Linked DNA regions of Homo sapiens: region 2 is linked to region 1. The links come from fine-mapping of genetic effects on gene expression. A gene starts in region 1. The other region holds a variant in brackets. All regions are shown on one strand. Distances are from middle to middle. Region 1 holds the start of MAP3K14-AS1 (MAP3K14 antisense RNA 1). Region 2 overlaps MAP3K14 (mitogen-activated protein kinase kinase kinase 14).

Region 1 (5,321 bases):
CATTTCTATGCAACAGATGCAAAGACCTTTCCAACCTCTTTCTTTCTCCTGGGGCAGCTTGACAGGCAAGACACCCCAGCAGCTGGCAGGTGAGGGCCCCAGGACTGGGAGTAGAGAAGAAAATTAGGGGGTGCTCAGGGAAAAACTACAAAGGATTGCCTGCCCTGAAGCTGGGGTCACTGCAAGAAGCCAGTGTTTGCAACCATCCCTCCATGCTTGTCTGATTTGCTCATCTCTACAACCCTAGGGCTCACAGTCTTGTGTGTGTGTGTGTGTGTGTGTGTGTGTGTGTGTGTGTGTGTGTAGGAAAGGAAAAGAAAACTCAGTGGATTGGTAGATAGGTGAATGCAGGTATTTAGATGGATGGATAGATGGATGATGAACAGGATGGAAAAGAAGGGAGAAGGTAAAGAAGGAGAAAAAATGGGGGGAAAAATCTGAGTTCCCCTGCCTCATGGGGTCTAGGACCATAGGGGTAAAGGCAAAAGAAACTACAGCCCCAGTGCTCCCCCAAACAACATGTCCTGATATTGGCAAGGGCCCCTCAAAGCAGAATCACTTTATTCATCATCAACAATGGTCAGTGCCTACTACATGCCAGGCACCAGCAGGGCTCCAAGACACTGTAGCTTCAGAGCCAGACTGCCAGATGTGACCTTGGACATGAGTTTTGAATGTTTTTCAAACATGAGTTTTGGACATGAGGACTGGATGGGCACATAACATGTACCAACACACAACAGCCACTGCTACTCTTTATATTAAAAGTTATAGGCCAGGTGTGGAGGTTGATGTCTGTAATCCCAACAGTTTGGGAGGCCAAGGCGGGAGGATTACTTGAGCCCAGGACTTTGAGACCAGCCTGAGTAACATGGCGAAACCCCATCTCTACAACAAATTAAACAATAAGCCAGGCGTGGTGGCACGTACCTGTGATCCCAGCTACTCAGAAGGCTGAGGCGAGAGGATCGTTTGAGCCTTGGGAGGTTGAGGCTGCAGTGAGCCGAGATCTCGCCACTGCACTCCAGCCTGGGCAAAGAGTGAGACTCTGTCTCAAAAATAAATAAATAAATAAATAAAAATTTAAAACACCCAGGAGGGAGTTGGAATGAGCCAAGTCGTCAGTTCCACCTGAGTTAGAGTGGGCAGCTCTCAGGGTTCTTGTGTGGGTGGTTCGTCTTGCCACCTGTCCCCTCTACCCTCAGCCTTCCAGGATATCTTCAAACTCTTCAGCTCCAGCCCAACAGGCACCGTGGACATGCACAGCATGAAAGTTGCCCTGGGCAATGTGGGTATCCAGCTGAGTCCACAGGAGACGTTCGAGGCTCTGCGGCAGGCAGACTTGGATGGTGGGTGCCCCAACCCTGTCTTCTTGTCCCCTCCCACCTCCAGGCATTCTTTTAAAGAATGCCTCCCCTTCCCACAAAATCCTGGCCTGGTCCTATTTTAAAGTTCCCTCTTCCAGGAAGCCTGCCCTGACCAACACACCTATCTCATGGCCTGTAAACGTTGCTGCTGTGTTCATCCTAATCCTGATTTGGGAACCCCCAAGGCATGGGCCGTTTCTCCCCCATTGAAACTGGGGTCTGCCCTTGGCTAGAGGCAGGACTAGATTCTCTAACACCTGGAACTGCCAGCAGGCATGTGCAAGGCAGGCCTTCTGCAGGGGGCAGGCACCCACAGCACCCCCTCTCCTCTCTCCCCAGGTGATGGAATCGTAAGCTTCATTGACTTCCTGGGTGTCTTCGATGACAACCACCGCTTGGCTCAGTGCATGGGTGAGGGGCAAGGCTGGTGGAGGAGGGGTGGGCCTGGCTTAGGGGGTGCCCCCTCCTCACCCTCCTTCACCTTTTTTGCCCCCAAGCCGGGTGAGGAACAGCCAGCTCTGTACCCCCAGGGACTGCAGACCCTGTTCTTGGAAATGCTGTTCAAGCTGCTGGGCCGGGGCTTTGTGCCCTCCAAGTTGGCACGGGGGGTGATGAGGTGGGCACAACCATACCAGCTCCTGGGCCCACAATGGGAGGAGCAAACCCTGCCCCCCGCAGGGACCCCTGATATTCCTGCCCTAGAGACGGGAGCCCTGAATTCTGAGTCTGTTTCCTGGGCCCCAAGTCGCCCCAGGACAAAGACAAAGCAGCGGCTTCCGGCCCTGCTTTGGCTTCCGCACCTGTGAGACAGAGAGGGCTGGGAGTGTCTGAGGCGGCCGCCCCGCCTCTCTTCTCCAAGCTACTACTTCAAGAAGCAGCGGGCTCTGCGGCTCAGCCCAGGCTGCGGGGGTTGGGGGGCGCTCCCACGCGGGGCTCGCCTTCTGCCACGCGGCGCGCATCAGCGACCTCTCCAACTAGGAGCTGGCGCGCTCGCTGCACAAACTGCACGAAGTAGGTGCGTCCCCGACGGGGCGGGGGGCGCCGGGACCCGCGGGAGGGACCTCTCCCGGCCACTTACAACCCCCGCCCTCGCCTCCGACCCCCAGGACCCGTTCTGAGGACCGTCTCCTCCTCCACCTCCTCCCAGGCACCCGCCCCAGGTGCGCGCAGCCCGTACTCTCAGATTCCTAACCTGGAGGGGTTGGCGCTCCCGGAACGCAGGACACGAAGCCCAGCCCCGGGCCCCGGCTTCCGCCTGATCCAGCCCTACTAGCCCGGCCGCCCCAAGATCCCGCCCAGCCCGGGGCGTGTCTCGGCCTAGGTGAGAGCCGGCGGGCGGGGGAGGGACACGCAGTGAGGGGCGGGACAAGTGCCCGGAGGACAGACAGATGGGGCGACACTGGCTGGTGGAGGGGAGGGGCAGGCGAGGAGCGGGGGCAGGCCCGGAAGAAATGGGGACCCGGCAGGCGGTGACGGAGGCGGCACGCGCGGAGATGTAAGGCGAGGTCACTTATGGCGTCACTAAGTACTGGGTAGGGCGAAAGGAAAAGGGGCCAGATGCCCGGGTGGGAGGCAGGACTGGCGCAAATGGGGCGGGGCAGCCGGAAGGAGAACTGCTGCGGGGCTGGCCCGGCGTGTCTAACCCCAGCTGCCCGCTCGCCCCCTCCGGCCTCCCGCAGGGATACTGGGCCAGCCACGAAAGCCTCCGCCCCCTCGAAGCGGGCTCCCTCGCCGCCAACTCTAGTGAAGAAGCAGCCCTTCTCCCCGGCGCCCGCTGGTTTGCAGAGGCCTGCTATGAAGAGCTTGTGCAAGTAAAGCGTTTGCTGAGCGGAAACAGGCTGCGGGTGGCTGCGGCAGGCATGGAGCCGACGCGGATCTTTTGCAAACATCTTTATTAATCTCATATAAAAATAAGGTCCATGGACGGTCCTCGGGGCTGGGGCTTGCGGGGGCGAGGTGCACTTTATAAGTTACAGGCCAGGCTCCTGCTGAGGCTAAGTATGGCTATTTGGAGGGGGCTTTAGGGTGGGTGCTGCAAGCAGCATTTGGGGGAAGGGGCGGGCGATGCTGCCCTCTGTGGCCAAGAGGAGGATGCACCAGCCCGTTTGAGGCGGGCCACAGCGGAGGAGGGGCTGCCCGGCCAGCCGAGCTGAGGACCACCTTCCTTGAGCCTCAGCCTGTCCACGGCCCCACACCCCTGCAGAATCCACCTGCAGAAATAGCGGCTACAGCGAGAGGTCGGAGGTGACCTGCAGTGGGGGGCCCGGGGGACGCCGACGGGCACTGCGGCGGCCTGTGTCTGCGCGGATGTAGGGCTGGTTCCGCAGATCTGGCAGCCGAAGGAGACACATTTACCATTCAGGAGTCCGCCCAGAGCTGGGAGCATGGCTCCAGGGCACAAAGCTTAGCCTCCTAAGGACTCAGATTGTGTGCACATGGCAGGGGTACCGTTTATGTTTGCCAGACCCCTCCACCCCACAAATCACATCCCAGCCATCCACTGGCCCAGGAGAAGGCAGCATGCCTCAGTTCTCCCAAGGGTCCCAGGGGCTGTGGGCAGCGTGGTATCAGAGGCCAGGTCATCTGGGTACCTGAGGGGCTAGAGGGGCATCTCTTCTCCCAGGCTGGCCTCACAGAGGAGCCGGGATGTCCGCTTGCCGGTGCGGGCCGTGAAGGGCACCGTCTTGATCACTGAGTGGGGGTGGGGCAGGTGAAGGGGAGTAGAGAAAGGAAAAAGGAAAGAAAAACAGAAAAGGTAGCAAGAAGCAGTGTGGCAGCCAGTCCCCCAGAGGATAGCGCATTGGGTCAGAAGAAAGCATAGAAGGACAGACTGAGGATAAGACCAAGGCCTGGCCAAGCCCTTACCTGTGATGATGTCTTCAATGGCCCCATCACGGTCGCTCTCATAAATGAGTGGCTCCTTCTGCTGCCTCCGTTTCAGCTCAGAGATGAGGTCCATCTGTGGCCGCCGGGCCTTTGGCGGTGACTAGGGGGAATTTATAGCTCCAGCTCCAGGATGCCTCCCCATCACCAAAACCCTGGAATATCTGCCTGGTCCCCCACAGCAAGGACAGCTGGCTTGAGCAGAAAGAACCCTTTCCCATCCCAGGCTCCTGGGGCAGGGTCAGTCTGTAACAGTGAGGGTGTGGGGGTGGCACCAGAGGGTGATGAGATGCCATGCATCCCTGCAGCCCAGTACCAAGCCCAGGAGCAGTTGCCTACCTTGGGTGCTGGGGGCTCCCCTTTGCCCGGGGTATCAGCGCCTGCCTCCTGGGCAGCGGCTTCTTTTTTCCACTGTTCCACCTCCTGCTCAGCTTTCTGTGGGCCAAGGCAGTCTCCATGAGGGTGGCCCTCCCTACTGCCCTACCCACCCCCTAAACAGAAGCAGCCCCACCCCTCCGCTGCCCAGTAGAAAGGCTTCAGTGCCCTACAGGGCTCCCAGCCTGCCCCAGACCCGAATACCTTGTAGGCCTTAATGAAGCGGCTAAAGAGGGAGAAGAACAGGCCTGGGGATGTGGTCTTGGGGTTCTCTCCGAAGTACTCCACCACAGACTCAAAGGCCTCCTGTGGGCACAGCCTGTCAGCCCCCCAGCTTAGACCTCTCACAGCCTGTACCCCTCAGGACACTGGCCACCTGATCTGAGCTCCTCCCAGGCAGGGTGGCCCCTCATTCCTGCTGCATCCCCCCAAGGGGTCCCAGCTACGGCCACACCCCTCCAGGCTGTGCTATCTAGTGCTCCTACATGCCCCACCTCCAGGTGAGGCCAGCCCTGGCGCACCTGAGCCGTCTTGCTGTCTGCCAGCAGCTTGTCCATGGTGGGCGAGTTGGCCCTCAGGAACTCCTTGAGCACCATGCAGTCATCCTGCCGCACAAACTCTCTCTGTGTCAACTCTAGGCCTCGCTGCAGGGAGCGCACGTCCGCCAGGACACTGTCCAGGGACACTGGGCCAGGG
Region 2 (5,364 bases), 22 kb before region 1:
TTATTGAAATAATCCATGCCCACTGTGAAGTATAGAGTTAAGCATATAAAAGAGGCAGAGAACAGAATTCTCACCATGTCTCTTACCCAGAGAGAGAATCACAAATTTTTTTGTTGTTTTCATTGAGACAGAGTCTCACTCTGTCACCCAGGCTGGAGTGCAGTGGCACAATCTCAGCTCACTGCAACCTCCTCCTCCCGGGTTCAAGTAATTCTCCTGCCTCAGCCTCCTGAGTAGCTGGGATTACAGGCGCCTTCCACCATGCCCAGCTAATTTTTGTATTTTTAGTAGGGACGGGGTTTTGCCATATTGGCCAGGCCAGTCTCAAACTCCAGACCTTAGGTGATCCGCCCCACTCAGCCTCCCAAAGTGCTGGAATTACAGGCATGAGCCTCCGTGCCCGGCCGAATCATGAATATTTTAAATAACTCCTTCCAGGCTGTTGTTTTCCCTGTGCCTAGTTAGGGCCATTATAACACAATTTTGTGCCCTGCGTTTTTCATGTATAGCCTTAAGGATAAAATGATTTCATTTTGACCAACGGAAAAAGAATCTTTGGAAGTATATGATTGTGTGTTGTTAAAGGACTATGTTGGCAATTCTGAAGATGTAAATTGAATGTGGACACTTGACCTCCACCCGTGTTGTTTTAAGCCCTTTTAAAATAACTGTAGTGGGCTTTTTCTTGTTACAAAAAAAAATGTATCTTTTCTGATTCTTTTTAACTTTTATTTTTTAGAGACAGAGTCTTGCTCTGTCACCCAGGCTGGAGTGCAGTAGCTCACTCATAGCTCACTGCAGCCTCAAGCTCCTTGGTTCAAGCGATCCTCCCACCTCAGCCTCCTGAGTAGCTGGGACCACAGCATGTACCACCATGTCCGGCTCAATTTTTATGTTTTTTGTAGATATACATGGGGTCTCAGTATGTTGCCCAGGCTGGTCTTAAATTCCTGGATTTAAGCATTCCTCCCACCTCAGTCTCCCAAAGTGCTGGGATTACAGGCATGAGCCACTGCCTGACCCTTTTTTCTAATATCTGTTGAAGAAAGTAGAGCTAAGCAAAAATTACAAATACAAATCACCAGGAAAAAAACCACTGTTCACATCTGCCATCTATCCTTTCAGTCTTTTACGCATATAAGTTTTCTATTACAATTTTTAAATTTCACTTACTAGTATTTCTTACTAGTAAGAAGTATTACTTACTGGTATTACTTACTAGCCTTCTACAACCTAATTTGTAATGTCCAGCCCCTGCCCCATTTTTAAAAAACACTTTAAGGGTTTGGTCCAAAGGGCAGAGTCCACATCATGGATGCTCTGTTACTTTGTACAAGTTCCCAGCAGAGTCCCCGCCTAGCTCCTCCCTACAAGTCTGACTTGGAGACTTTATTTCTATATTTAAAGTATTTTAACATGTCCGGGCACAGTGGCTCATGCCTGTAATCTCAGCACTTTGGGAGGCCGAGGTGGGTGGATCACCTGAGGTCAGGAGTTCGAGACCAGCCTGGCCAACATGGGTGAAACCCCATCTCTACAAAAACATAAAAATTAGCTGGGCATGGTGGCTCATGCCTGTAATTCCAGCTACTTGGGAGGCTGAGGCAGGAGAATCTCTTGAACCCGGGAGGTGGAGGTTGCAGTGAGCCAAGATCGCGCCATTGTACTCCAGCCTGGGTGACAGAGCAAGACTCCATCTCAAAGAACTAAAAAGATAATAAAATAAAAAGTACTTTAACAGTGACAAATGTAAGATACCCCGAGGATTAACCAGGGTGGCCATTGCCTAGGCTCCTGCCCATCAGCATTCCAGGTAACTTTATGTCTCATCCCCCTTCTCAGGGGACTACATCCCTGGCACAGAGACCCACATGGCTCCGGAGGTGGTGCTGGGCAGGAGCTGCGACGCCAAGGTGGATGTCTGGAGCAGCTGCTGTATGATGCTGCACATGCTCAACGGCTGCCACCCCTGGACTCAGTTCTTCCGAGGGCCGCTCTGCCTCAAGGTCGGTGACGGCACCCAGCATGGCCAACAGGGGGAGCTGCAGGGCCCTGGGGCCCAGGCTGCAGGCTGGAGGGGCTGCTCTGCGGTGGCAGATGGAGCAAGGGGAGGCCTGGTCATCCATGTGGGATCCTAATTCAAATACTTGCCACCCAAATCTGGGGGTACAAGGGGAGATCCAGCTGCGGAGGCTCACCAAGTTCATGGCAGGTGAGAACTCTCTTCTGTCCATACCCTGGGCCCCATCCACCTGCCTCCTAACGGGCCGGGCCTGGAGGCTGTGGGCGTCTTGCTGCCTGGCTCTGGCCTGTTTTACTGGCTCCATTTGTCCCTTTCCTGGGAAAAGTGCCCTCACTGTAGCCCAGACCCCTCCATTCCTTGTGGTAGACCCCAGCACAGCGGGAACAGGGGCCGGCGGGAGTTGCGCAAAGAGCAATAACAGCCGGGTATCAGGAAATGAGGGAAGGCAGGCCTCACCTGTTGTCTTTTGCCCCCCAGATTGCCAGCGAGCCTCCGCCTGTGAGGGAGATCCCACCCTCCTGCGCCCCTCTCACAGCCCAGGCCATCCAAGAGGGGCTGAGGAAAGAGCCCATCCACCGCGTGTCTGCAGCGGAGCTGGGAGGGAAGGTGAACCGGGCACTACAGCAAGGTAGGAAGAGCCCCACGCTGGCTGACCCGGGGGGCAGAAGACAGAGGTGGACAGAGGAGGCAGGTGGGCGCAGGTCCAGAGCAAGGCACCCCTCAGAGCCTTAGTTTCCCCCTCTGGATTATGGGGGTGCAGCAGCCTCAGGGTTGTTGGGAGATTGCGACAGTGCCAC[G/A]CCTGGACCCAGAGGCAGCGCTCAGGAGATGGGAAAGAGAAAACTCACACGCAAACTCGAAGTGCTTTTTCCATTCTCCCACTCAACTACAATCAACCCAGAAGACTCCTGTGACCACATGTGTGGGGATTTCCACCCCACCAAGCCAGCAATCAGTTCTGCAGCAGACACTAGCTTGGTGTCCTCTAATTCAGTTCTGTTCCAACACTATCTACCTGGAGGTAGCATCAGATCCCACAGCAGGAGGGCTCGATCCCCAAGACTGCACCCCCTAGCCATGCCAGTCTCAGGCCCACGTGTTTACCTGTGCTTCTGACCAACTGGCTATAAGTCAGGGACCCCATGACCCCCTCCTTGGGATTGATTAATTTGCTGGAGTGGCTCACAGAACTCAGAGAAACACTTCCTTACATTTACCAGTTTATTAGAAAGGATATTACAAAGGATACAAATGAAGAGATGCATAGGGCAAGGCATGTGGGAGGGAGCACAGAGCTTCCAGGGCTTGGCACCCTCCAGGAACCTCCATGTGCCCAGCTACCAGAAGTTCTCTGAACCCGGTCTTCTTGGGTTTTTGTGTAGGCTTCATTACGTAGGCATGATTGAATAAATCACTGGCCATTGGCGAACCGCTTAACCTTTAGCCCCCTTCCCTCCCAGTACGTGGGATGGTGGGATGAAAGTCCCAACCCTCTAATCCTGCCTATGTCTCTCTGATGACCAGCCCCCATCTTGAAGCTACCTAGGGGCTGCCAGCCTTCAGTCAATCCATTAGTACACAGAAAGAGATCATTTTGGAGAGTAAGGCTTTTAGGAGTTCTGTGCCAGAAATGGGGTTAAAGATAAAATATATGTTTACTAGTATCATAAGGGTTATGATGTATAGAGGGGGCTCAAACTCACTAGGAATCCAAGAATACAAAATAAAGACAGGCCGGGAGCAGTGGCTCACACCTGTAATCCCAGCACTTTGGGAGGCTGGGGCAGGAGGATCGCTTGAGGCCAGGAGTTCAAGATCAGCCTGGGCAACATAGCAAGACCCTTTCTCTGCAAAAAAATTTAAAAATTAGCCAGGCATGGTGGCACATGCGTGTAGTCCTAGCTACTCAGGAGGTGAGAGGATTGTTTGAGCCTGGAAGGTCGAGGCTGCAGTGAGCCATGATTGCACCACTGCACTCCAGCCTGCGCAACAGAGACCCGACTCAAAAAATAAATAAATAAATAAAGCCAGGTAACACTCAAGAGCCATTTGACTGGAAAAAAGCAGAAAGTTGGTGGGATGTAGGGCTGTTGGGACCCCTCAGGTGCTGCTGATGGGCATGTGGACAAGGCTACCCACTCTGGGGGGGCACCTGGCTGCACTCAGGCAGACGTCTGCAGACTGAGACCAAGGACTTCTACCCCTGGGTGCACTGACAAACGAATGCCAGCAGATCCATATGGGGACACGCCTGAGGACGCGCACTACAGCTTCCTTTGTGGGAGGGGAGTAGGGTACGATGGGGTCCCTCACTGGGAGGACAGAGACACAAAAGGGGATGCCTCATGGAGCACCAAGCAGTTAAAGCAACTCGGCGTTCACAGAGCAGCATGGATGGATCCTAAAGCCATGGTGCCGAGTGAAAAGAGAACCCGACACAGAATGGGACCCAGAACATAATGCCTGTTTGGTAAACTAAAAATTGATCAATAGCCAGGTATGGTGGCGCACATCTGTAGTCCCAGCCACTCAGAAGATTGAGGTGGAAGGATCGCTTGAGCCCAGGAGTTGGAGTCCAGCCTGGGCAACATGATGAGACCTCATCTCTTTAAAAAAATAAAAATAAAAATAAATTGATAAATAAAACAACGCACATTTTGCAAGGACACAACCAAATCAAAAATGACACATCAAACATAATAGAATGTCACCTGAGGGATGGGCACAAAAAAGGCTGTGATTATAGGAATGAAAATGAAATAAAGAAAACCAGAGAGATCTTGCACCTCACCAAAGACAGCTGGTAGTTATAAGGATGAGGGTGGTCCCAGGGCTGAACTAGCCCCATGCCAGAACAAACGGTGCCTGGGGAAGTACCGACTGAGGATGGGGTAGGAGAGATGGTGGGTCCAGGATGCCACTTTGCCTGGGAGCTCTTGAGTTGGTGTAGCCCCAGGGCTGTTTTCAATCTTCTCTTTCTTGTTAACAAAGTCCTCTGGAGCTGATTCTGTAGTTTTTGAATTTGCTACTGATACCTAGAAGAAAAACAGAATCAAAGACAGAAATCCAGTCCTATCCCTGTCATATTGGGACCATTTTATTGAGGAAGTCTCCTGTGGAGACCACCATGCTGCCCTCTGGAGCCACCTCCCATGGTGGCCCGGGGCAGTGTCCTCCCCTTTGTTTGCCTCTAGCCCTTCTGCACTCAGGAGAGGCCGCTCCTGCCTGGACCGCTGTCTGTGCACAGCACGCTTCCCCTCACCATTGTACTCTCTGTTTTCTAGTGGGAGGTCTGAAGAGCCCTTGGAGGGGAGAATATAAAGAACCAAGACATCCACCGCCAA

The links.
Region 2: its variant is fine-mapped to the expression of MAP3K14-AS1 in whole blood (TOPMed, PIP 0.97).

Annotation. Positions count from the first base shown.
Region 1 is chr17:45,245,242-45,250,562 of GRCh38, reverse strand. It overlaps MAP3K14-AS1 (MAP3K14 antisense RNA 1), which reads right to left and starts at 2,638. Exons shown (of 4, transcript NR_110326.1): 1 at 2,560-2,638. It overlaps FMNL1 (formin like 1), which reads right to left. Exons shown (of 27, transcript NM_005892.4): 22 at 5,147-5,310; 23 at 4,830-4,931; 24 at 4,590-4,685; 25 at 4,233-4,353; 26 at 3,959-4,058; 27 at 3,245-3,696. The coding sequence ends at 3,967. It also overlaps the pseudogene EFCAB15P. RefSeq lists enhancers at 1,791-1,840, 3,091-3,160 and silencers at 2,251-2,980, 4,915-5,085.
Region 2 is chr17:45,267,700-45,273,063 of GRCh38, reverse strand. It overlaps MAP3K14 (mitogen-activated protein kinase kinase kinase 14), which reads left to right. Exons shown (of 16, transcript NM_003954.5): 10 at 1,843-2,006; 11 at 2,501-2,651; 12 at 5,305-5,364. It overlaps MAP3K14-AS1 (MAP3K14 antisense RNA 1), which reads right to left. Exons shown (of 4, transcript NR_110326.1): 4 at 4,434-5,055. Among named protein-coding and RNA genes, the nearest start is that of SPATA32, 8.3 kb to the right of the region's middle. RefSeq lists enhancers at 1-71, 5,226-5,364. The variant G/A (reference allele first, on the strand shown) is at 2,821.